7 linked regions of the Homo sapiens genome follow. The protein of the gene in region 6 purifies or fractionates together with the protein of the main gene of each other region. This does not show direct contact. Each region holds a gene or a part of one and is shown on either strand. Other genes may lie near its edges. The genes, in order: ELAVL2, CASC3, PUM2, PUM1, MSI1, CELF5 and PAIP2B.

Region 1 (3,500 bases), on a different chromosome or scaffold from region 6:
GACCAGTCTCAATATGTCCAACACTGCCTTCTTTTGTAAACATCTCCTGGCAGTAGAGATTTCTTCCTATATGTTTATCTGCTAATGTGCCCTTTTATTTTTCTTAGGCAATATGTGTTTTAAAAGACAGTTTTTTCTCTTTCCTTGTAACCCTCTTTCCCTTTACTTTGCTTTTTTTCTTTGCCTCAAGTTCTTTGCCTTTTCTATGTTAAAGCTTCCCTAAAACTAGCATCCCGTCAATTCAGAATTGTCAGTTTTGAGAAGCAGTTCTTTGTGGAGGTGAGAGATGTATGCAATATGAAGGATAATCCTTTCAGTGATGCGTTGATTTTTAGATTCCACCACAGTCTTGGCTGTCCAAAGATAGGTAGTTAGTGGAAAATGATTTTGGAAAATTTGGGGCTGTGGTTTGTGACTCTTTTGCATAGGATTGGTTTTAGGAAACTAGATTTAATACTGCTTAATAAGTGATTTGTAGAGTAGCCTGAACAGTTTGAGGCCATTTTCCCCAATTCTGTTCTTTATCTGGTGTTTGGAGTTTATAGATACCCTATTACTTGCATTTTCAACAGGCTTATGTGCTCAGACGAGAATTCCTTGGGCTGGTCTGTTTGCAAAAGTTGATATATTTACATTGTTGTTTTCATTGACTGGATAGGTTTTCTTTTTTCTCATTAAAAAGCAGAGTCAAGGAGAAACACCATATCGAAGTGTTTGGGGATTTTATTTTGATGTTGTAGATCAGTCACCTTGTTGGTAATTTTTAGCTGCCAAGGTTGACAGGAGTGTCCTATTAGATTCTACCAGTTAGACAAAGTATTCATAGCTCATTCCCAAGTTACCTTACAGTTAGTTCCTTTCCACTCCCTAAAATATAGCATCTGTTTTTTTCTTACCAATGGTAGAGATAAGATATTGTCCATCAAAAACGTTTTCAATATGTAACCAAAACAGTACATGTTGACAAATTTATATTTTTAAAAGTACTCTTGCTCTTTGATTTTTAAGTTAATGGCTATCTGTCAGTTTTAGAATATTGAACCTCTTAGGATAACTGAAAATCTCTTCAGAGTTAGGTAGGTCATTTTTTTGTTCATTTTTGTAGCATGTTAAGCACTTTTATTTTCTAGTATGATTTTTAGTTAGGGTTCAATTCTGTGCCCTTTGGTACTTGATTTTCTCATCTGTGGACACTGCAGGTGAGTAAGGATATGTGAATAGACCCAGAATGTGATTCTAGAAAATGTTTAAGATTTAAATTGTGCTTATATGCATGTATGGAATATGTATGTGAAAATATAGTTGTAACCTTAAGATGAATAGGTTAATATGAAGTGAAAATTAGTGTAGGTATTACACTTTTTGTTGAAGCATTGTTGTAATTTCATTAGAACGACTTGTGTTTAGTGACAAGTGTTTAAATTCTTGGATGGAGTCTCTAATAGGTTGTGAAATATGAATTCTGACATTTCTTGTTTTCTCTGTTTTTAGCAGGTAATTGCTGCCATGGAAACACAACTGTCTAATGGGCCAACTTGCAATAACACAGCCAATGGTCCAACCACCATAAACAACAACTGTTCGTCACCAGTTGACTCTGGGAACACAGAAGACAGCAAGACCAACTTAATAGTCAACTACCTTCCTCAGAACATGACACAGGAGGAACTAAAGAGTCTCTTTGGGAGCATTGGTGAAATAGAGTCCTGTAAGCTTGTAAGAGACAAAATAACAGGTAAGCAGTTTTATGTAGATGATTTATATTTAACGGATCGTGTCTCAAGATAGGAGAAAATAATAAGATTACTGCTTGTAAATAATTCACTGCTGCAATTTTACATATCTAGATTTTCTCTCTGTTATTACATCAGCAATATGAAACTTAGTTTAAAATTTTCTTTTTAAATCATAAACTATTTTGGGGGCAGTATATATTTTAACTGGACTTTAATGTACTCTGATCTGGACAGGATCTTTGGAAAATCTTCTAAAAGTATATGTATCTGGGATAGCCAGTGTCATGTTAACTTTTATCTTTTAGTACCCTGAGTGTATTTAAGTTAGCATTTCAACAGTGAGATACAATATGTGTTTGGGAGAGGGGAAAAAATCTTAAAATGTGTTTTCCTTATGTTAATATAATCATTTTGCTTATATATGATAAAATAAATGGTAATGTTCACATTGTCAGTGTATAAACATTTTCACTGATATAATACCAAGCGTGATGAGATCTTATGTTCCGTTCCTTAACAAGGAAAGGACATGGTATATGATTGTCCTTCTTGTTATAAAGATAAAGCCTTAATTATAGTACATTTTGAATATTAGGTGAAAATCTCCTTAGTATTTTTTAAGATTTGACTAAATTTTTAGAGTAAACCAAAACCTAATTTAAAGAGCACGTTCTTGGGATAGAAGGGTTAATGCTTCCTGCAGGAGTTGTTTTCAAACACTAAAAATACATGAAGTTAGACATACATATGAAGTTAAACACTAAAAATATACGAAGGTAGACAGACTCTGTGGACTTTTCATGTTAATTAAATTTGATTGATAGTGTATACCAAATTGCTTTACAAAGCTTATAACCAAAAATATAAAATGGAATATTTGAAATGAGTAAAAGATACTTAAAGGCAGTGTGAAGAATGAGACCAGGAGTCTGAACTCTCACCTAGTCATGTGACATTGGATAAGTCAGCCCTAGACTTCTGGTTTCCATTGGCAAAATAAGGTAAAAGGCAGAGAAAAAGGGGGTAACACTGGGCCATTTCTAAGTTCACTTTTGACTTTTTCATACATGGGACTTTGAGCTATTCCGTTAATCGTTAGGGCTCATTCTCTCCAAGATCTGCAAGTGAGTTCTAGAGCCAGCCCCTGGACTTGGCTCATAATCATATTTCCTCAAGCTACAGATTGAGATTCACAGAGACAACTTACTGAAATCAAGTTAAAAAGCTAAGTACAAACTGATTGTCATTGATCCATAGCAAACGGCCATTATATTTTAATTATGTTGCTTAAATGTTCACTATGATATTAGGAAGGTGGTTCTTATGTTTCTGAACACTGATAATCAGATGGATGAGATTTTTCAATTTCTTTTCCAAAATGAGTGTGATAAGCATATGTGAAATTTATAGTGTTTTTAATAAGTTGAAAAAGGTGAAGAACAAAAGGCTGCTCTTACGTCTCTGTCGTGATGTTTTTAAACATCTTTTTAACATGTTTTAAACATGTTATCTTTTGTTTTTAAAGTAAAACAACACCCCTGACATGTGGATTTTGCAACCTTTTTAATATAAAAGATAAAAATATGATAAATGACTTGAGGGCTATGACACAAATGATGCAATTTCTGATTGCTTAGTAGAGCTCCCCTTACTATTAAAAAGAAAGATGCATGAACAGAGCACAAAAGTCATGTTTTGTTATGAAACTGTTACGAAATGATACATTTTATCATTTTATAAGATGAAAATATTAGACAAATCATA
Region 2 (3,500 bases), on a different chromosome or scaffold from region 6:
TGGCGCAGTCTCTGCTCACTGCAAGCTCTGCCTCCCTGGTTCAAACGATTTTCCTGCCTCAGCCTCCCGAGCAGCTGGGATTACAGGTGCCTACCACCAAGTGCGGCTAATTCTTATATTTCTAGTAGAGATGGGGTTTTGCCATGCTGGCCAGGTTGGTCTCACACTCCTGACCGCAGGTGATCTGCCTGCATTGGCCTCCCAAAATGTGATTACAGGCGTGAGCCACTGTGCCAGGCCAAAATAGGATCTTTATTTTCTAGAAATATGGGTAAGAATATTGATTTGTTTGCTTTTCAGTTCTATGTTGTACTAAAAATTTATTGATAAATGTATTCCTAAAGAGTAGAAAATTGAAATGCAGCCAGGCACGGTGGCTCACGCCTATAAACCCAGCACTTTGGGCGGCCAAGGCAGGCAGATCACGAAATCAGGAGTTCAAGACCAGCCTGGCCAACATGGTGAAACCTGGTCTCTACTAAACATACAAAAATTAGCCAGGCGCGGTAGTGGGCGCCTATAATCCCAGCTATTTAGGAGGCTGAGGCAGGAGAATTGCTTGACCCCTGGAGGCAGAGGTTACAGTGAGCTGAGATTGTGCCACTGTATTCCAGCCTGGGTGACAGAGACTTTGTTTTGGGGTTGGGGGCAGGGGTGGGAATTAAAATGCACCGTTCAGATCTTATATGCATCGCTGACAGGGAAACTTTTTTCAGGGTGAAGAAGGTGAATACAGTGAAGAGGAAAACTCCAAAGTGGAGCTGAAATCAGAAGCTAATGATGCTGTTAATTCTTCAACAAAAGAAGAGAAGGGAGAAGAAAAGCCTGACACCAAAAGCACTGTGACTGGAGAGAGGCAAAGTGGGGACGGACAGGTTAGTACATTCCACAGTCCTCCATTTTAGAGGCTGGAATAGAGATTCTTGAGGCTTGGAAGAGTAAGGATCCCTTTATCTGTCCTCTAGGAGAGCACAGAGCCTGTGGAGAACAAAGTGGGTAAAAAGGGCCCTAAGCATTTGGATGATGATGAAGATCGGAAGAATCCAGCATACATACCTCGGAAAGGGCTCTTCTTTGAGCATGATCTTCGAGGGCAAACTCAGGAGGAGGAAGTCAGGTAAAAGCCACTTGCTGCTGCTGCTGTCTAACATGTATTTTACACATGTAGGCCAGGTACTTCGATTTGCCTGTATTTCATTTATTACAGCATTTTAAGATAAGTATTATGATTATCCTTATCGTACAAATGAGGAAAGTAGGCTTAGAATATTTGGTAACTCTTGGTGAGGCAGCTAAGATACAGACCTAGGACAGTTTGTTTCCAGAACTCATCTTCTCTTAATTATTATACTTTTGCTTTTCTTAGTCTGAGGTGTAAGGCGTCTGAGAAGTGAAATACTTGCATAGGTTGCCTTTTAGGAGAAAGGAGATGTTTCAAAGGTACTGAATGGCATGAAATGAAGTCTTTTTCTCATTTCTGTGTCTGTTATATTTGAGCCCAGCAGGCCCTGAGGTTCTGTGATTCACGCTTGCTTTGGGGAGGCCTGTTTTTTATAATCTCTTTGGGATGATGAGGAGACTACGTAAAGTTCCTATTGTCCCCCTGCCTCCCTGACCCATTTTGTTCAAGAACATCTCTACTTGGAGAATTCTGCTGACCCAAGACACTTTTCCTTCATTTTATCCAGACCCAAGGGGCGTCAGCGAAAGCTATGGAAGGATGAGGGTCGCTGGGAGCATGACAAGTTCCGGGAAGATGAGCAGGCCCCAAAGTCCCGACAGGAGCTCATTGCTCTTTATGGTTATGACATTCGCTCAGCTCATAATCCTGATGACATCAAACCTCGAAGAATCCGGAAACCCCGGTGAGGACATTTTAGAACATAAGACCAGGCTGGGTATGGTGGCTTACGGTGGCTTACACCTGGAATCCCGGCACTTTGGGAGGCTGAGGCAGGAGGATTGCTTGAGGCCAGGAGTTCAAGACCAGCCTGGGGAACATAGTGAGACCCTGTCTCCAAAAAAAAAAAGAAAAAAAGGAAAAAAAAAATAGAGTGTAGACTCTTGATATCTTTTAGAAAGAATTCTCTTTGCTTTTCTTTTTATTTATTTATTTAAGACAGAGTCTCGCTGTGTTGCCTAGGCTGGAGTGCAATGGCATGTTCTCGGCTCACTGCAACCTCCACCTCTTGGGTTGAAGTGATTCTCCTGCTTCAGCCTCCTGAGTAGCCAGGATTACAGGCGCGTACTATCGCGATCGGCTAATTTTTGTATTTTTAGTAGAAATGAGGTTTCGCTATGTTGGCCAGGCTGGTCTTGAACTCCTGGCCTCAAGTGATCTGCCCGTCTCGATCTCCCAAAGTGCTGGGATTACAGGCCTGAGCCACCGCGCGTAGCCTCCTTTTGTTAATTTCCTAACAGTTTCTTCATTCCATTTTTTGTAGATATGGGAGTCCTCCACAAAGAGATCCAAACTGGAACGGTGAGCGGCTAAACAAGTCTCATCGCCACCAGGGTCTTGGGGGCACCCTACCACCAAGGACATTTATTAACAGGAATGCTGCAGGTACCGGCCGTATGTCTGCACCCAGGAATTATTCTCGATCTGGGGGCTTCAAGGAAGGTCGTGCTGGTTTTAGGCCTGTGGAAGCTGGTGGGCAGCATGGTGGCCGGTCTGGTGAGACTGTTAAGCATGAGATTAGTTACCGGTCACGGCGCCTAGAGCAGACTTCTGTGAGGGATCCATCTCCAGAAGCAGATGCTCCAGTGCTTGGCAGTCCTGAGAAGGAAGAGGCAGCCTCAGAGCCACCAGCTGCTGCTCCTGATGCTGCACCACCACCCCCTGATAGGCCCATTGAGAAGAAATCCTATTCCCGGGCAAGAAGAACTCGAACCAAAGTTGGAGATGCAGTCAAGCTTGCAGAGGAGGTGCCCCCTCCTCCTGAAGGACTGATTCCAGCACCTCCAGTCCCAGAAACCACCCCAACTCCACCTACTAAGACTGGGACCTGGGAAGCTCCGGTGGATTCTAGTACAAGTGGACTTGAGCAAGATGTGGCACAACTAAATATAGCAGAACAGAATTGGAGTCCGGGGCAGCCTTCTTTCCTGCAACCACGGGAACTTCGAGGTAGGTATCATAGGATTGGTGGCTAGCTTTTTCCCCTTTGCATCATCAGGTTTAGGGGCATGGGACTTCTGTCTCAGGAAGGTGGTGTCTGACAAATGTCTACTTCTTTTTTTTTGAGACAGAGTCTCACTCTTTTGCCCAGGCTGGAGTGCAGTGGCGCGATTTTGGCTCACTGCAACCTTCGCCTCCCAGGTTCAAGTGATTCTCCTGCCTCAGCCTCCTGAGTAGCTGGGGTTACAGGCGCACACCACCACGCCCAGCTAATTTTTTTTTTTGTATTTTTATTTATTTATTTGTTTTGAGATGGAGTCTTGCTCTGTTGCCTAAGCTAGATGCAGTGGCACGATCTCGGCTCACTGTAATGTCCACC
Region 3 (3,500 bases), on a different chromosome or scaffold from region 6:
TGGGCGCCTAACGCTTTGGGAGGCCGTGGCAGGTGGACTGCTTGAGCTCAGGCATTTGAGACCAGCCTGGGCAACGTGGTGAAACCCCATCTCAATAAGAAATGCAAAAATTAGCTGGGCATGGTGGCTCGCGTCTGTAGTCCCAGCTACCTGGGAGGCTGAGGCGCGAGGATCTCTTGATCCCAAGAGGTAGAGATTGCAGTGAGCCAAGATCGAGCCACTGCACTGCAGCATGGGCAACAGAGTGAGGCCCTGTCTCAAAAAATAAAATAAAGTAAAATAAAATAAAGTAAAATGATACTATGAAACCTTGTATCTGTTAATGGTAATGTTGAAGATATTTTCTATTACAACTCTGTTGCCTCAATAATGCTCCATCTAAGAAATTGCTTTTTTTTTCTCTGATACTGGGATGAGGGCGGGTGTCTCATCGTGTTGCTGGGGCTGGAGTGCAGTGGTGCAGTCACTGCTCACTGCAGCCTCAACTGCCCAGTCTCAAGCAGTTCTCTGACTTCAGCCTCCTGAGGAGCTGGCATTACAGGCGCACAACATCATACCCAACTAGTTATTTTGTTATTATTTGTAGAGACAAGGTCTCACTATGTTGCCTTGGCTAGTCTCGAATTTGTTGCCCCATGTGGTCTCGAATTCCTGGACTAAAGCAATCCTCCTGTCTTGGCCTCCTAAAGTGCTGGGATTATAGGTCCAAGCCACCATGCCCAACAGAAATTTCTTTTAAAGCTTAGTGTTAGGAATAAGGTTGCATCCAAGGGTTTGGTATGATTTCTTTCTCTGGCTAATGAGAATTGTACATACCTACTGTTTGTACAATTACTAGCACAACTGGTTAGCTTTAAACTTACTAGTTTATTTGCTATTTTATTTAATAAATTACTTAGTTATTTTTATTTAGAAACTTTTTTTTAATTTGAGGCAGGGTCTCTGTCATCCAGGCTGGAGTGCAGTGGTGTCACCCAGGCTGGAGTGGAGTGGTGTGAACATGACTCACTGCAGCCTTCACCTCCCTCGCTCTAGTGATCCTTCCACCTCAGCCTCTTGAGTAGCTGGGACCACAGGCATGTACCAGTACACCCAGCTAATTTTTTTGTTTGTTTTATTGTATATTTCCTTTAAGATAGTCTGCCGTCTTCCAAACATTTGCTTAAGTGAATAAAGTAAGTTTATTTAAATTATACTCAATTTTTTTTTAAACACAGACTCTTTTAAAAATATATAATTTAGCTGGGCATAGTGTGGCACTACTGTAACCCTAGAGGTTGAGGCAGGAGGATTGCTTGAGCCCAGGTTTGGAGGCTGTGAAGGCACCACCGCACTCTAGCCTGGGTGACAGAGTAAGACCCTGTCTATAAATATATATATGATTTAATACTTAATCCTTGAAACTAACACAGATTTGGTTTCTCTCCATACATTTCTACCTAGATGTTTGGTGGTGTTTTTGATGTAATAACTTGCCTTTTTAAAACTTAAGTATCTTTAGGAAATTGGCTTGGTCATTTCATCTCACTTTAAAGTTAACCAATTCAAAGCTTGTTCTTGATTACTTGAGGAACTTTAAAAACCGCAATTCATGCTAATCACCTAAATGATTCCTTTTACTTCAAAGATTTATACAATTCATATATATTTCTTAGACTATTCATAAGTCATAATAAGCTAAATATATTTTAAAGCTTTTAACCGTAAGTTAGGGTTTTCCTAGACAAAAATTAAATCTCTATTCTACCCAGTCTTATGAGAAAATTGAATATATTTCATACCTCACATTCATTTTTCTTTAAGTTGTCTTGGAAATGACTAGAAACACTACATAAAATGTATTTGTGTTAACATTTACAGAAAAGTTATGGTAATACTGGGTTAAGGTTAAACAGTTTTAATTGTAGAATTTCTTGGAGCCAGTAACAGAAGGAAGGAAAGATTGAACATGTACTCAGAGCTTGCAAAGGAGCAAGTGGGTGCTACTGAGCAGCATACCTGAAATGTATTGGACAAGGGATCACTTATTTCTGAGAACACTGAGTTGGTGAATAAGGAGCACACTTAGGAAAATTCCAAATATACTGCATTAAAGTCTGCTTCTTAAAATTGTTATTTTTCTCCAGTTGTCTCAGACCATGCATTCAGATTTCTTCCTTTAGTTCTCTGTTACAATTTAGTTAACATTTCTTTTTCTTTCTTTTTTTTTTTTTTTTGAGACAGAGTCTCACTCTGTTGCCCAGGCTGGAGTGTAGTGGCGCAATCTCCGCTCCATGCAACCACCACCTCCTGGGTTTAAGCGATTCTCCTGCCTCAGCCTCCCTAGTAGCTGGGATCACAGGCGCCTGCCACCACACCTGGCTAATTTTTATATTTTAGTAGAGACGGCCTTTCACCATGTTGGCCACCCTGGTCTCGAACTCATGACCGCAAGTGATCCACCTGTCTCAGCCTCCCAAAGTGCTGGGATTACAGGCGTGAGCAACCATGCTAGGCCTCTAGTTAACATTTCTTAAGTTGTTTTTCCTTGGTGAGGTATTAATTCTAATTGATAGCATGTAACAATTGAAAATTACTAAGATAGCCATGTGAGACAAGTCTTCATTTGTTGGACTTTCAGCCTAGTACTAATAGGAACAAAAAGTAACACAATAACTTTTGTACTTTGATAGTTTCCAAACTGTAATGCAGTTAAGCTATATTTATATAGGACATTAAGAAATTTATTTTGCTAACCTCAGTAAGTCTTACAATATGAAGAAATACAAAGATAAAGCCAACAGTACCTTCTTTACCAAAGTTGAGTGAGATGTTTATTTTTTCGTACTTCCCACAAACATATGTAGTCATACATTGCCCCCCTCCTTTTTTGAACAAAAATTGGATCATATGATACACATTAGGCAACTTTGTATTTTTACTTAATATCATGGACATTTTACATGTAACTTTAATTACTTGTAATTTTTGTACTGGCTCATTGTTTTAACTTTTTTCTGTTGTTGAGTTTGGCTTATTTTTTTAATTTTGTACCACCATATAAGTGGTGCTGCAGTAAATATCTTTATATAGTTAATTCATTTGTGTTGGTGCTGTTTGTTTAAGGTAAATTTCCAAAAGAGAAACTTCTGGGTCAAAATATTTTCTTTTTTTGCGGGGCAGGGAGAGGGGGGCTGTGCAGAGCGCAGGTAAGAGCTGTGGCCCCTGCTATGTTGCCTACGCTGGTCTTGAACTCCTGGACTCAAGTAATCCTCCTGCCTTGGCCAACCAAAGTGTTGGGATTATAGGCATGAGCCACTGTGCCCAGTCCAAAGAATTTTATATTGATTTTTAAACAAATAAACAAAAAGTTCAGTTTGATGTGTCATTAATACTCTAGAAAGCACTTGCATTTCAATTTCATTTATTACCTCACTTAATCTTTGCAACAGCCCTATGAGGGAGGCATTGTTGTTTCCATTTGCAAATGGACAAATGAGATCGAGTTCATTTAGCTAGTT
Region 4 (3,500 bases), on a different chromosome or scaffold from region 6:
ACTTGCCCTCACTTAGACTATAGTTCACTGATGAGAGCATTGTTCTGAGCCAGTCTTAAGTCATATTGGAGGTATCTAAATGTCCATGCAGCTTGGAATATGTGGTTTTTCCTTGGTGGATTATCTGTTTTCTGTTTCAGAATCAGGGATAGATGGAGTGGCCAAGCTAGTTTACAAGGCTTAGTCTTTATGTTGATGTTTTTGAACAGCATGATTAGTGAGAAATTTCTGGTATACCTTGATAGGGTCATCCCTTACGTTTTTAAGGTTTCTCTTAAACCAATAGTAGGGGTCCTTTTTAGCTGTCTACCTCTGAGATACATGTTTATATAGATACATCTTGAATATATGTTGTTTTTGGTTCACTGTCAGCTGGTTTGGTGCTTTGCATGGGATTAGATGTACTTTGATGTTCTACATGTGAAACAAGTCTTTGAGAGATGTCAGCGTATTTTTATGGACCTTTACTGATCATAGAGCATAGCCAATTTAACTGAGCCATTTATGAATTCAATAAATAACTTTAACCTGTTTCATTTGTTTTTTAGTTACTGAGCCTTTGTGTGTTCTTAGGAAGTCACCTGCAGTTTTTCATATGGCTTAAACTGGGATTTGGAGATTCTATCTCACATAATATTGAAAGATCATGTTATTTAAAGCCTATCTAGGTTTTTCCTGCTATTTTGCAGGATATTTGTTCTTAAATTATTATGTAGTATGAAAGTACTATGATTTTTATAATCATTTGTAGCCTCTGTTTATTCAACTATTTAAGTGATGGAGCCAGTATATAAATCTGGCCAATTCAACCTCAAAGCTGAGTTTGTGATTATTGACAATATGTTGGTGCCCAGGAGATACTTGTTTGTTTAACATATACATTTCTTTGTTGGCTTGATATTCCTAGGTTATCCGGTGTTGGCTCCTGCTGCTTACTATGACCAAACTGGTGCCCTTGTAGTGAATGCAGGCGCGAGAAATGGTCTTGGAGCTCCTGTTCGACTTGTAGCTCCTGCCCCAGTCATCATTAGTTCCTCAGCTGCACAAGCAGGTGAGCGCACATCTGAGTGGACTCCTGCCAGAGATCTAAAAGTGGCGACTGATAGTGAGATTCTTAAAGTATGTTGAAATAAACTTTTGGCAATTCTCAGTATATCGGTTCTACCCTGTAATGTTTCAAAAAGAGATCAGAAGCAATAAGTGACCTTAGTGGATTCTCCTTTTTGTTGGGGGGTTGGTGGGTTGGGGGAGGGGTGGCATGTGCCAGCTGGTTAGAAGCAAGGTCTGAAGGTCTGGCTCCACTGAGAACATAGAAGTTGCATTACTCACACAAAATGGCTTTGTTGGCAGAAATCCAAGTCATTATTTTAAGATAATTTTAGAGGAGGGGTTGTTTTTTGCCACAGGGGCAGGAGTGGAGGACGTGGGAAAGAGTAGTGAGAAGTGACAAAATAATACATTTGGTTGGGAGGAGTAATAGTTTTTTACTTTAAGTGTTTATATTTATTTATTTTTTAATTAAGAACAATAACAGGAACATCTAGAAGACAGCAGTGTGCTAAAATAGGAATTTGAAGGATGTGTATGTGCATTACATGGTTCTAGAAGAAACCCTCAACATAGATATTTATGGAATTTAAGATTTTAGGAAGTAGTTGTATTTAATGGATACATTTGATGTTTATACCCCTTTTAATCTGTATACTCTTAAAAGCAACCAGCATAGTGAACTTGTTCTAGTGGTATTTTGAGTTCAAATTGAAAGTAGAAACAGAAAATAGAAGCTTCATATGAAGGGATCAAAGACAGATTTGTATGGTTTGTGTCTGTTTTGAAAAGATAGGCAGCATTAAAAGATTTTTTGAAAAAAGATAAAAATGTAGTTTGGAAATGTGGCCAGTCCCTTTCATAGCCAAACGGTTTGCTTTCTTCTTCATAGCTGTTGCAGCAGCCGCAGCTTCAGCAAATGGAGCAGCTGGTGGTCTTGCTGGAACAACAAATGGACCATTTCGCCCTTTAGGAACACAGCAGCCTCAGCCCCAGCCCCAGCAGCAGCCCAATAACAACCTGGCATCCAGTTCTTTCTACGGCAACAACTCTCTGAACAGCAATTCACAGAGCAGCTCCCTCTTCTCCCAGGGCTCTGCCCAGCCTGCCAACACATCCTTGGGATTCGGAAGTAGCAGTTCTCTCGGCGCCACCCTGGGATCCGCCCTTGGAGGGTTTGGAACAGCAGGTAGAAATTAGACTGATATGCTCTTAAGACTGAATTTTAATTATTTTTACAATCCTTCTGGAATACTGGCAATGCATGGAACCACAGGCAGATCTGGACCAAGCCTTGTGGGAATCCAGCCATCCCACATAATCTGTGAGATGATAGACTATTGAAATCAAGTTATACAGATGGGACCTATTTCAATCCATGCTCATGTGGCTACTTACTTAATCAGTTTCTTTCAGGGATTTGAAATCTAGGGAAGATTTTTGCTGTATTTGGGAAAAATATTGAGGGAACTGTAGAAATTGATATCAAAAACTGAGGGAGGAGGACTTACTAAAGATAGCAGAGCTGAAATACTCCACAATTGAGACTGAGCCGAGTTCTTGGCCTGCAGGCCTTAAAGAGTTACAAGTTTTCTTCAGTCTTTTGAGTAGAATTTAAGGTAGACATGTGGAAAATTAGGAGGAAGGATATTAGACCAAGATATTTTTAATGTTTTGATGAAAAAAGCAGGAGTGTAGTATGGTGAATAATGGGATAATTGCAGAGATTATAAAAAACAAACAAACAAAAGTGATCCCTAAATAGAAGGGCATGTGTGAAAGAAAGTATCTTAATTGGAATTGAGGGCAGCATTAACTCTCGATTGAACCCACTGAGAAAACAGGCTTTCATATAGAAGTCTTGTGTAGTGGGGCAGTACCCCATTTACAAATCTTTTTTCTGTATCCCATTTTTCTACTTGAACCTTTTCAATTGATGAAAGGCATTCTTCTAGTCCATTTTCTTCCACCTTTTCCATAGTTCATGTGGCCGTCAGAGCTTTTTAACCCTCCCTTATCCTATAATATACGACACCATAGGAAGGTAAATTTGGCATATGTTTGATGGTCATGTTAACCTGAGCCATGTCCTCTTTATTACTTATCTGCCCCTAGTACTGCTACATTAACAGTTAGGCTGTCTCTGCTGACAAATTTGCGGTGGTAAGGAGTCTGGATCAAAGTGTTAGGAACAGGTCACTGGGCTTGTTCTTCGAAGAACAGGCCTGTTCTTATCTGCATTGTTTTAATTCCATTTTAGTTGCAAACTCCAACACTGGCAGTGGCTCCCGCCGTGACTCCCTGACTGGCAGCAGTGACCTTTATAAGAGGACATCGAGCAGCTTGACCCCCATTGGACACAGTTTTTATAACGGCCTTAGCTTTTCCTCCTCTCCTGGACCCGTGGGCATGCCTCTCCCTAGTCAGGGACCAGGACATTCACAGACACCACC
Region 5 (3,500 bases), on a different chromosome or scaffold from region 6:
TGATCCGCCCGCCTCGGCCTCCCAAAGTGCTGGGATCACAGGCATGAGCCACCGCACCCAGCCTTTCCAAGACCCTATCTTTACAAAAAAATTAATTTAAAAAAAAAAAGATATTTTTGGAGGGTGAGAAGTTCCATGAGGAAATTAAAGCAGGGAAATGTGCTAAGGCGTTATGGTTGGGGACAAGGGGCCGCCTGAGTGGGGGTATTCAGGGAAAGCTTCTTAGAGGAGGTGGCATCTGAGTGAGAAGGAGCCCACTGTATGAAGTTTTTAGGAAAGATTCACAGTAGGAGGTGCTCATCTCTCAGCCCCAGGGAGCCCCAGGCTCAAGCCATTCAAGCCACTGGGTGTTTTAAGCAGATTCCCTTTCTACTCTTTCAGCAGGTATTAAGCACCTGCCGTGTACAAGGCAAGGTGCTAGGTGCTGCAGAGGTGGCGATGATGGCAGACAGCAAACAAGGGGATAGGTGCCTGTGTCTGAAGAGGAGATGGCAGACAAAGAGGCTGGGGGGATTTGGGGGAGGCAGTGGTCATTTCTGGGTGGTCAGGGAGGCCCTTAGGGTGCTCTCAGGAGACAGGGGCGAGGGGAGCAGGACAGGCAGCAGAAGGTGCGGTGCAACGCTATGGCCTCGGTGTGAGCCCAGCCTCAGCCTGACCCCTAGAGCGCTCTACCTGGGGGCAGCAGGCCTGGGGGCCTGTCCCATGTCTGTCTATCGCCAGGTGTCGTGGGCTGCGAAGAAGGACGTGAGCTCCCAGGCACCTCTGGGCCAAGTGATCCCTGTTTTGCCAAGGGCATCCTGGAGAAGGGGGCAGCTGCGGGCAACCTTCGCAGCTTCTCAGGGTTGGGTGCCCTGCCTCCACCCTCCATGAGCTTTGGGTTATTCAAGCATGTCCCCCCAGACCAGGGGAGAAATTGAGGCTCAGCTACTCACTGGGAAGCTGTCCTCTCTCCCACCTTTTTCCATCCATGCCACAGGTCAGGACACAGATGGTGTGGCCCAAGGTAGCCTTTTCTGCCTTGACCCTGGGGCTACATGGAACCCTCTGAGGTAGGGCCAGGCTGGACAGGCTCTGCCTAAAAGGTAGGGGCCTCCTTCACCCATCTCTGCCCCTCACCGCCATGCTGATGTGCCCATCCCTTTCCTTTCAGCCATTCCTCTCACTGCCTACGGACCAATGGCGGCGGCAGCGGCGGCAGCGGCTGTGGTTCGAGGGACAGGTGAGCTCTTCTGAGGTGCAGGAAGAGAGATGAGGGAGCACAGGGAGCAGAGAAGTCCAGGGGAGGGGAGAAGGCCACTGCCACCCCTTTGCAGAGGGACACTTGTTCATTCACTCAAGTATCACCTGATTACCTGCTCTGTGCTGGGCATCGTGCCAGCATGGGCGAGCCAGCCCTCAGCAAGACTGACAGGGTCGGCTGGGCGCGGTGGCTCCTGCCTATAATCCTGGCACTTTGGGAGGCCAAGGTGGGCAGATCACCTGAGGTCAGGAGTTCCAGAGCAGCCTGGCCAACATGGTGAGACCCCGTCTCTACTAAAAATACAAAAATTAGCTGGGCGTGGTGGTGCGCGCCTGTAATCCCAGCTACTCGGGAGGCCAAGGCAGGAGAATCGCTTGAACCCGGGAGGCGGAGGTTGCAGTGAGCTGAGATCACGTCACTGCACTCCAGCCTGGGCAACAGAGTGAGACTCCGTCTGTCTCAAAAGAAAAAAAAAAAAGACTGACAGGGTCTCTGCCTTCCAGGGCTTGCAGCCTGGTGGTGGCATCAGGTATTAAAAAGGCAATAATGCTGATGGCTGATGCTGCTGCACTAGGGGGAGTCCAGTACCAGAGGAGCTCCCAGCTGGGGCCTCTAGGAAAGGCGAGGGAAGGCTTCCAAGAGGAAGGGCCTCTTAACTTTGCATTCAAAGGCAAAGAGGAGGAAAAGTGTTTCTGGTTGAGGGAATAGCATATGCAAAGGCTTGGAGGCCAGTGGGTGGGGAAAGTGCGGAAGTGGGGAGTGGAGAACGGAGGCAGGAGGAGCCCGGGTGGTGGGGAGACAGTGGAAATTGCAAGTAGCAGAGGGACGCGGGTCAGGGTTTAGAACATGCATTCAGCTGCTAGGTGGGGAGAGGTTGGGAAGGGGCTCAGGAGGTGAGGCTGCTGAGTGGTCAGACGAGATGATGGGGGTCAGGGCTAGGGGTGACTGGGTGGATGGGCATGGGGAGATCTCCAGGAGGTGGGCCCACAGGACTTTCTGAAATGTGGGGGTCCAGGTTAGGGTGGGTGGGACAGGCTTGAGGGGGTGCCGTGGGGTGGCAGAGGGCACCAGGGCTATCACCGTCTTCTTTCTGGGTTGCCAGGCTCTCACCCCTGGACGATGGCTCCCCCTCCAGGTTCGACTCCCAGCCGCACAGGGGGCTTCCTGGGGACCACCAGCCCCGGCCCCATGGCCGAGCTCTACGGGGCGGCCAACCAGGACTCGGGGGTCAGCAGTTACATCAGCGCCGCCAGCCCTGCCCCCAGCACCGGCTTCGGCCACAGTCTTGGGGTGAGTGGCCAGGCCTAGCGGCCCCCACCTCACCCCCCACACCTTGAGAGACCCCCAAGTTGGGGAAGGGAGAGAACTTCTTTGTCTCTGGGGGCAAAAGGAGGGTGAGGGAGGATGAATGGAGAAAGATCACTAAGGAAGAGTTGTGGGGGTTATCATTCATTCAGTGGGCACTTAGTTATCGCCTCTGAATGCCAGGCATAGTGGGCTCTAGGTGCAAATGAGACACATGGCATCTCTGCTCACATGGAGGTTTGATTCCAGGGGTGCCCTGGTTTTATCCAGGGTACGGTTTGTGCAGATTCCCTGGCCCTCTGTTGGAGAATCTTTGAGCAGACCTGCAGTGGGGGGTGATCCGGGTAGGCAGACCTGCAGTAGGGGGGCGATCCGGACAGGTAGAGAGAGGTCAGCGCCTCACTTCAGATGTCCTGCAGAGAGAGAAGGAGCCCCTGATCTTCCTCTATTTCCCAGGAATCTAGGAGTCAAATTCTTTCCTTTTCAGGGCCCTTTGATTGCCACAGCCTTCACCAATGGGTACCACTGAAGCAGGGGACGGTGGCAGGAGGTGAGGATGTGGGGGTGGGCAGGTGGTGGGGTGGCACTGGGGAAGCCTGTCCTGGGCCATCGAATCTGGGACACAGACCCCATCCCTGCCCTCAAGAACCACAGTCCCAGGGGAGACAGATCTTTATACCAGCTGTGGTCAATAAAGATGAAAAGCTGCTCACCCTACTCCATTTAAACACAGAAATCAAAGCAACAGTAAGGCTTCACATCCCACCTATCAGGTTGGCAAAGATTATTATTATTATTATTTTTGAGACAAGATATCGTTCTGTCACCCACACCTCCTGGGCTCAAGGGATCCTCCCACCTCAGACTCCTCCCGAGTAGCTGGGACTGCAAGCACCTGCCACCATGCCTGGCTAATTTTTTTACTTTTTTTGTAGAGACAGGGTTTCACTGTGTT
Region 6 (3,500 bases):
GGAGGTTCACAGGGAGTTACCAAAATACCACAGAGCAGTCCCAGGTACCCTTCACACAGCTTCCCTGATGCCAGCAGCTTATCTAATCATAGGTCACTGTCAAACCCAGGAAACTAACACTGGCACCATACAATTAATTCAACTCCAGACGGTATTCAAATTTCACCATTTATTTATTTAGCGACAGAGTCTCACTCTGTCGCCCAGGCTGGAGTGCAGTGGCGTGATCATAGCTCGCTGCAGCCTTGAACTCTCGAACTCCTGGGCTGAAGCGATCCTCTCACCTCTCACCTCAGCCTCCCAAGTCACTGGGACTACAGGCACGTGCCATTATGCTTGGCTAATTTTCGATTTTATTTTATTTTTTAAGAAATGAGGGTCTTGCTATGTTGCCCAAGCTGGTCTCGAAACTCCTGGGCTCAAGCGATCCTCCTTCCTCGGCCTCCCAAAGTGTTGGGATCACAAGTGTGAGCCACCACACCCAGCTGATTTCACGAGTTTTTGTATGCACTCTGTGCACGTGTGTGTGTGTGTGTGCAGGGGCGGTTAATTGCCATTTTGTCACAGATGCAGACTTGTGGATCTCCCACAGTGAAGATACAGAACTGCTTCTTGCCCACAAAGTGAACTCCTTCCTGCCACCCCTTTGAAGTCACAGTCACCACCACTATCCCCTGCCCTCCAGCACACTCTCCATTCGGGCAGAATTGTTTGGCTGAATTTTTCCCCAGAATCATCAGCTTTGGTGGCCTGGACAACTTCTTCCCTCCCCTACCCCTTTCCCTAGCGGTAGCAGGAAGGCTACAGCTAGATGGGGGAGCTACAGGGTGTCTGATGAGGAAACTCATGTGGAGAGGGAGACGGGGCAGGGGATGGGGGCAGGTGGTGATTTGAGGTGGAGGCTGAAGTCCTGGTGAATCCAGGGAGTAGAGAGGAGTGAAGGGTCCCCCTTGGGAGGCAACCGGGTCGGGATAGGGAGAGGGAGATGGGGACGATGGTGATCTCTCTCTGGAGTCCGAGAAACCCGGATTCCAGTTCAGCTTCTGCCATTTGCTATCTGAGTGGCCCTGTGCAAGTGGCTTCACCTTCCTCGGCCTCAGCTTCCTGGTCCTACAGAGGGTTTAGCACAGAGGAGAAGCTGGGCGGGGTGTTTGTTGCTGTCCTTGCGGCTCTTAAGGATCGGGGGTGGATGGAAGACTTCTGCTGCTCCCGCCCCACTCAGCCCCTCTGTCTGCCCGCAGCTCAGAGCCCGACTGTGGCCGAGACACTGCATCCTGCCTTCTCCGGAGTCCAGCAGTACACAGGTAGGAGGCAGCCCGCGTGCCCGCGCTGGGCCCTGGCCCCGCCCCCGCCTAGGGCCCCGCCCCCAGGGCCCGCCCCGGACGTGTCGTTCTTCTGTGCCTAGCCGCGCCTCCTACCTCTGGCCCCGCCCCTCAGGGCCCACCCTTAGCCCCTTGTCCTGTATTCAACCCCGGGCCCTGTTACTGGTCCCACCCCACCACCACCTATACCCGCAAACAGGACCTTCCCTTGTCCTTTAAGGACAGCGCTTACCCATGGCCTTACCCTCTCATGTTCTGTGTTGGGGAGAGGGAATTCCCCTTGACCACGTCTCTAGCTCTGACCCAACCCCAGCTCTCGGCCCTGCCCCTTACCCTCCCTCCTGCAGCTCCTAGCCCCGCCCCTCACTTCCTGCCTTTACTCTGACCACGCCTCTCTGATAAAGCCCCGCCCCTACCTCTGGCTCTACTTCTTAAGGCCTGGCTGTGACCCCGCCCTCTGCTGCGGCCCCGCCCCTTAACTCATGGTCCTGCCCACATAGCCCTCCATCAAGTCACGGCCCCGCCCCACTCATGCCCTTCATCCCAGTCTTGCCCCCGCCCTCCACTGTGACCCCACCCCTCAAGCAATGGTCCCGCCCACTCTGGACTGTCCTGTAGCCTTGGCCCCGCCCTCTACTGTGGCCCAACCCCTATACCCCTCCCCTCACGCCATGGGGTCCGCCCCCACCCCCCCTTCCCCGCCCCGTCTCGGTATTGGCCCTGCCCTCCACCATGGCCCCGCCCCTCAGGCAATAGCCCCTCCCCGTTTCGTCTGTGATCTTGGCCCCGCCCTCTGGCCTGGCCCCGCCCCCAAACCCTCCCCACAAAGGCCATGATCACACCCACTCCTGCCTTGGCCCCACCCTCTTATGGCCCCGCCCCCTCCCCGCCCAGCGGCCCAGGCCGCCCACGTGGCCTCACGCCCCTCCTCGCCCTGTGTCTCGCTCCGGTCTCCGCAGCCATGTACCCCACCGCGGCCATCACGCCCATCGCGCACAGCGTCCCCCAGCCGCCGCCCCTCCTGCAGCAGCAGCAGCGAGAAGGTGAGGCGGCCGCAACCTCCCCTGGGCGCCAGCCCCGCCCTCTGCCCGCCCTGTCCACCTGCAGGCTCCGTGTCTGGCCCGGGCCTCTGGGACCCGCGGGGCTGAGAGTGCGGCCTGGGGGCTGGACAGGCCAGAGTTGAGTCCCGGTGCAGCCGCTGACCCCTGGGAATCTCCCTCTCTGTTTCCTCCTCCGAAAAGAGAACCATGCTCGCCCCGACCCCGTAGGAATAGCAGTGACTTCCTACCAGCCCTCTCCAGAACCAAGAGTGATTCTCTGGATTTTTTGGAAAGGAAACCCTTTTTGAGGCTGGGGCATGGCACGATGAGGTATCAGGTAATGAGGCCTCCCCAGTAAAGCCAAGGCTGTCGAAGGAGGGAGGGATTCGATTCTGGAGTCTGACAGTCAGGGTTCAAATCCATACAGTTCTTGCCATGTGCGGTAGATCCCGCCTGTAATTACATAGCGTTTTGGGGGCCGAGGTGGGAGGATCACTTGAGCCCAGGAGTCCAAGACCAGCCTGGCTTAGCAAGACCCCATGTCTACAAAAAAATTAAAAATTGGCCAGGTGTAGTGGTGTGCACCTGTAGTCCCAGCTACTCAGGAGGCTGGAGCAGGAGGATCACTGAGCCCAGGAGGTCAAGGCTTCAGTGAGCTACTATCTCCCCACTGGACTCCAGCCTGGGTGAGAGAGCAAGACTCCATCTCAAAAAAAAAAAAAAAAAAAAAGGCCGGGCACGGTGGCTCACGCCTGTAATCCCAGCACTTTGGGAGGCCGAGGCGGGCGGATCACAAGGTCAGGAGATCGAGACCATCCTGGCTAACACGGGGAAACCCTGTCTCTACTAAAAAATAGAAAAAATTAGCTGGGTGTGGTGGCGGGCGCCTGTGGTCCCAGCTACTCGGGAGGCTGAGGCAGGAGAATGGCATGAACCCAGGAGGCGGAGCTTGCAGTGAGCCGAGATCGCACCACTGCACTCCAGCCTGGGCGACAGAGCAAGACTCCGTCTCAAAAAAAAAAAAAAAAAAAGAAAAGAAAAGAAAAAAATCCCAAGCTGGTAACAACCCAAGTGTTCATCAGCAGGTAAATGGATAAATAAATTAGGATGGAGCTGCACGATGGAACACTATACAGCA
Region 7 (3,500 bases), on a different chromosome or scaffold from region 6:
CAGAGTAAGACTCCGTCTCAAAAAAAAAAAAAGGACGCAGTTGGGTTAAGGGGGAAAAAAAGGGAGAAGTGTAATTATATGCAACTTGGAACATACACTCTCACTGGCTATTCAGGCCACAGAAAAAGATGGAAAATGCTTAGTGAATTGTAAAATCTTATGGGTCATTTCTAACTAGATTTTTTTTTTTTTTTTACTCTAAGCTTCTGTCATTTTCCCGTTGGGTGTCTATTAAGTAAAAATCAGGGTAGATATATTCTGAAATGTCAACAATATTCATTATGTGTGAGTGTTGAGATTAAGGGGGCTTTTTTTCCCTTCCAATTTGGTTTTCTTAGTTCTGATTTCCCAACTCATATGCAAAGAAAATGGATTACTTCCACAATAAGGGAAACAGGTTCACATGTAAAGAACCTAAAAGAGAAACATCTGAATTAAAATGCTTCAGAAAAGGAAAACAAAATAATGAAGATAGAAAATATCAGGAAATTTCAAACACAAAGCAATATAAGTACTGGATAAAGTGGAAATTGAAGGGAAAAAACAGTTCTCTCAAACCCTGCTACTGCTTTATCAACTAAGTTGATTATGTAATATTCTAAATCCTTCGTTGTCATTTCCACAGTGTTCAGAATATGAATAGGAACAAAGATCATCAAGATTCAGGAGGATGGCAAAACCCAGTCCAAGGAAAATAAAAATCATAGTAAAGTGATACAGGAGCTGAAAGACAAAATAGGCAGTATAAAAAAAGAACCTAACAGGTTTGACAGAGCTGAATAACACAAGAATTTCACAATGCAATCACAAGTATTAACAGCAGAATAAACCAAGCTGAGGAAAGAATCTCAGAACTTGAAGACTGGTTCTCTAAAATAAGACAGGCCAGGCATGGTGGCTCACACCTGTAATCCCAGGACTTTGGGAGGCTGAGGCGGGGATCACCTAAGGTCAGGAGTCAGAGACCAGCCTGGCCAACATGATGAAACCCCATCTCTACTAAAAATACAAAAATTAGCGGCTGGGCGCGGTGGCTCACGCCTGTAATCCCAGCACTTTGGGAGGCCGAGGTGGGCGGATCACGAGGTCAGGAGATCGAGACCATCCTGGCTAACACGGTGAAACCCCGTCTCTACTAAAAATACAAAAAATTAGCCGGGCGTGGTAGCGGGCGCCTGTAGTCCCAGCTACTCGGGAGGCTGAGGCAGGAGAATGGTGTGAACCCAGGAGGCGGAGCTTGCAGTGAGCCGAGATCGCGCCACTGCACTCCAGCCTGGGCGACAGAGCGAGACTCTGTCTCAAAAAAAAAAAAAAAAAATTAGCTGGGCCTGGTGGCAGGCACCTGTATCCCAGCTACTCGGGAGGCTGAGGCAGGAGAATCTCTTGAATCTGGGAAGTGGAGGTTGCAGTGAGCTGAGATCACATCACTGCACTCTAACCTGGGCAACAAGTGTGAAACTGCATCTCAAAAAAATTAAATAAGACAGTCAAAAATAAAGCAAGAAGAATAGAAAGGAATGAACAAAAACCTCCAAGAAGTATGGGATTATGTAAAGAGGACAAATCTATGTATCACTGGCATCCCTGAAAGGGAGGGGAACAAAGTAAATAACTTGAAAGATATATTTCAGGATTGATATGGTTTGGCTCTGTGTCACCACCCAAATCTCATCTTGTAGCTCCCATAATTCCCATGTGTTGTGGGAGGGACCTGGTGGGAGATGACTGAATTATGAGGGTGAGTCTTTCCTTGCTGTTCTCATGATAGTGAATTGGTCTCACGAGATTTGATGGTTTTAAAAACGGGAGTTTTCCTGCACAAGCTCTCTCTCTTTGCTTGCCGCCATCCATGTAAGATGTGACTTGCTCCTCCTTACCTTTTACCTTCTGCCATAATTGTGAGGCCTCCCCAGCCACATGAAACTATAAGTTCAGTAAACCTCCTTCTTTTTTAAATTGCCCAGTCTTGGATATGTCTTTATCAGCAGTGTGAAAACAGACTAATACAAGGATACCATCCATGAAAACTTCCCCAACCATGTTAGAGAGTCCAACAGTCAAATTCAGAAAATACAGAGAACTCCTGCAAGATTCCACACAAGAAGATCATTCCCAAGACACATAATCATCAGACTTTCCAAGGTCAAAATGAAAGAATATTAAAGACAGCTAGAGAGAAAGGGTAGGTCACCTACAAAGAGATCCCTATCAGGCTAACAGCAGACCTCTTGGCTGAAACCCTATAAGCCAGAAGAGACTGGGGGACTATATTTAACATTCTTAGAGTAAAAAAATCTTCAACCAAGAATTTATATCCAGCCAAACTAAGTTTCTTAAATGAAGGAAAAATAAGATCCTTTTCAGATAAGCAAATGTTGAGGGACTTCATTACTACTAAACTTGCCTTACAGGAGACCTTGAAAAGAGCACTAAATATAGAAAGGAAAGACCACTACCAGCTAATACAAAAACCCACTTAACCACACAGACCAGTGTCACTGTAAAACAACCACACAAACAGGCCAACATAATAACCAGCAAACAGCACAATGACAGGATCAAATCCACACATATCAATACCAACATTGAATGTAAATGAGCTAAATGCCTCACTTAAAAGGCACAGAGTGGCAAGCTGGGTAAAAAAGCAAGACCCAATAGCATGCTGTCTTCAAGAAACCCATCTCACACATAATGACACTCATAGGCTCAAAATAAAGGGATGGAGAGAAATCTACCAAGCAAATGGAAAACAGAAAAAAGCAGGGGTTGCAATCCTAATTTCAGACAAAACAGATTTTAAACCAACAAAGATAAAAAAAGACAAGGGAAGGACATTACATAATGGTAAAGGGTTCAATTCAGCAAGAAGACCTAACTTTCCTAAATACATATGCACACAACATAGGAGCACCCAGATTCATAAAGCAAGTTCTTTATGAATCTGGGTGCAAAAAGACATAGACAGCCACATAATATTAATAATGTGAGACTTCTATACTCCACTGACAATATTAGATCATTGAAGCAGAAAATTAACTAAGATATACAGGACCTAAATTCACCATTGGAACAAATGGGTCTGCTAGACCTTTACAGAAGTCTCCACCCAAAAACAACAGAGTGTACATTAATCTCATTGCCACATGGTACACACTTTAAAATTGACCACATAATTGGACATAAAACAATCCTCAACAAGTGTAAAAGAACCGAAATCATACCAAACACACTCTTGGACCACAGCACAATAAAAATAGAAGTCAACACAATGAAAATAAAACCATACAATTACATGGAAATTAGACAACATACTCCTGAATGACTTTCAGGTAAATAATGAAATTGAGGCAGAAATCAAGTTATTTGAAAATAAGGAGAACAAAGATACAACATACCAGAATCTCTGGAACATAGCTAAGGCAGTGTTAAGAGGGAAATTCATAGCACTAAATGCCCACCTCACAAAGTGATAAAAGATCTCAAATTAACAACCTAAC

The links.
Region 1: the proteins of CELF5 (region 6) and ELAVL2 purify together in Homo sapiens (affinity purification with mass spectrometry; one large-scale study listed by BioGRID and IntAct). This does not show direct contact.
Region 2: the proteins of CELF5 (region 6) and CASC3 purify together in Homo sapiens (affinity purification with mass spectrometry; 2 studies listed by BioGRID and IntAct, with this or other methods). This does not show direct contact.
Region 3: the proteins of CELF5 (region 6) and PUM2 purify together in Homo sapiens (affinity purification with mass spectrometry; 2 studies listed by BioGRID and IntAct, with this or other methods). This does not show direct contact.
Region 4: the proteins of CELF5 (region 6) and PUM1 purify together in Homo sapiens (affinity purification with mass spectrometry; 2 studies listed by BioGRID and IntAct, with this or other methods). This does not show direct contact.
Region 5: the proteins of CELF5 (region 6) and MSI1 purify together in Homo sapiens (affinity purification with mass spectrometry; one large-scale study listed by BioGRID and IntAct). This does not show direct contact.
Region 7: the proteins of CELF5 (region 6) and PAIP2B purify together in Homo sapiens (affinity purification with mass spectrometry; 2 studies listed by BioGRID and IntAct, with this or other methods). This does not show direct contact.

The regions. Positions count from the first base shown.
Region 1 is NC_000009.12:23,760,241-23,763,740, reverse strand, and holds part of ELAVL2 (ELAV-like protein 2), read left to right. Parts: intron 1-1,491; coding exon of another isoform or gene 1,492-1,506; coding exon 1,507-1,735; intron 1,736-3,500.
Region 2 is NC_000017.11:40,161,037-40,164,536, forward strand, and holds part of CASC3 (protein CASC3), read left to right. Parts: intron 1-716; coding exon 717-875; intron 876-896; exon of another isoform or gene 897-965; coding exon 966-1,117; intron 1,118-1,688; coding exon 1,689-1,865; intron 1,866-2,444; coding exon 2,445-3,130; intron 3,131-3,500. UniProt on the Homo sapiens protein: Required for pre-mRNA splicing as component of the spliceosome. Core component of the splicing-dependent multiprotein exon junction complex (EJC) deposited at splice junctions on mRNAs.
Region 3 is NC_000002.12:20,340,845-20,344,344, reverse strand, and holds part of PUM2 (pumilio homolog 2), read left to right. Parts: intron 1-3,500. UniProt on the Homo sapiens protein: Sequence-specific RNA-binding protein that acts as a post-transcriptional repressor by binding the 3'-UTR of mRNA targets.
Region 4 is NC_000001.11:30,964,718-30,968,217, reverse strand, and holds part of PUM1 (pumilio homolog 1), read left to right. Parts: exon of another isoform or gene 1-55; intron 56-907; coding exon 908-1,051; intron 1,052-1,939; coding exon 1,940-2,236; intron 2,237-3,307; coding exon 3,308-3,500. UniProt on the Homo sapiens protein: Sequence-specific RNA-binding protein that acts as a post-transcriptional repressor by binding the 3'-UTR of mRNA targets.
Region 5 is NC_000012.12:120,345,165-120,348,664, reverse strand, and holds part of MSI1 (RNA-binding protein Musashi homolog 1), read left to right. Parts: intron 1-1,150; coding exon 1,151-1,219; intron 1,220-2,342; coding exon 2,343-2,530; intron 2,531-3,032; coding exon 3,033-3,074; 3' UTR 3,075-3,095; intron 3,096-3,500. UniProt on the Homo sapiens protein: RNA binding protein that regulates the expression of target mRNAs at the translation level. Regulates expression of the NOTCH1 antagonist NUMB.
Region 6 is NC_000019.10:3,283,661-3,287,160, forward strand, and holds part of CELF5 (CUGBP Elav-like family member 5), read left to right. Parts: intron 1-1,241; coding exon 1,242-1,304; intron 1,305-2,281; coding exon 2,282-2,365; intron 2,366-3,500. UniProt on the Homo sapiens protein: RNA-binding protein implicated in the regulation of pre-mRNA alternative splicing. Mediates exon inclusion and/or exclusion in pre-mRNA that are subject to tissue-specific and developmentally regulated alternative splicing.
Region 7 is NC_000002.12:71,196,104-71,199,603, reverse strand, and holds part of PAIP2B (polyadenylate-binding protein-interacting protein 2B), read left to right. Parts: intron 1-3,500. UniProt on the Homo sapiens protein: Inhibits translation of capped and polyadenylated mRNAs by displacing PABPC1 from the poly(A) tail.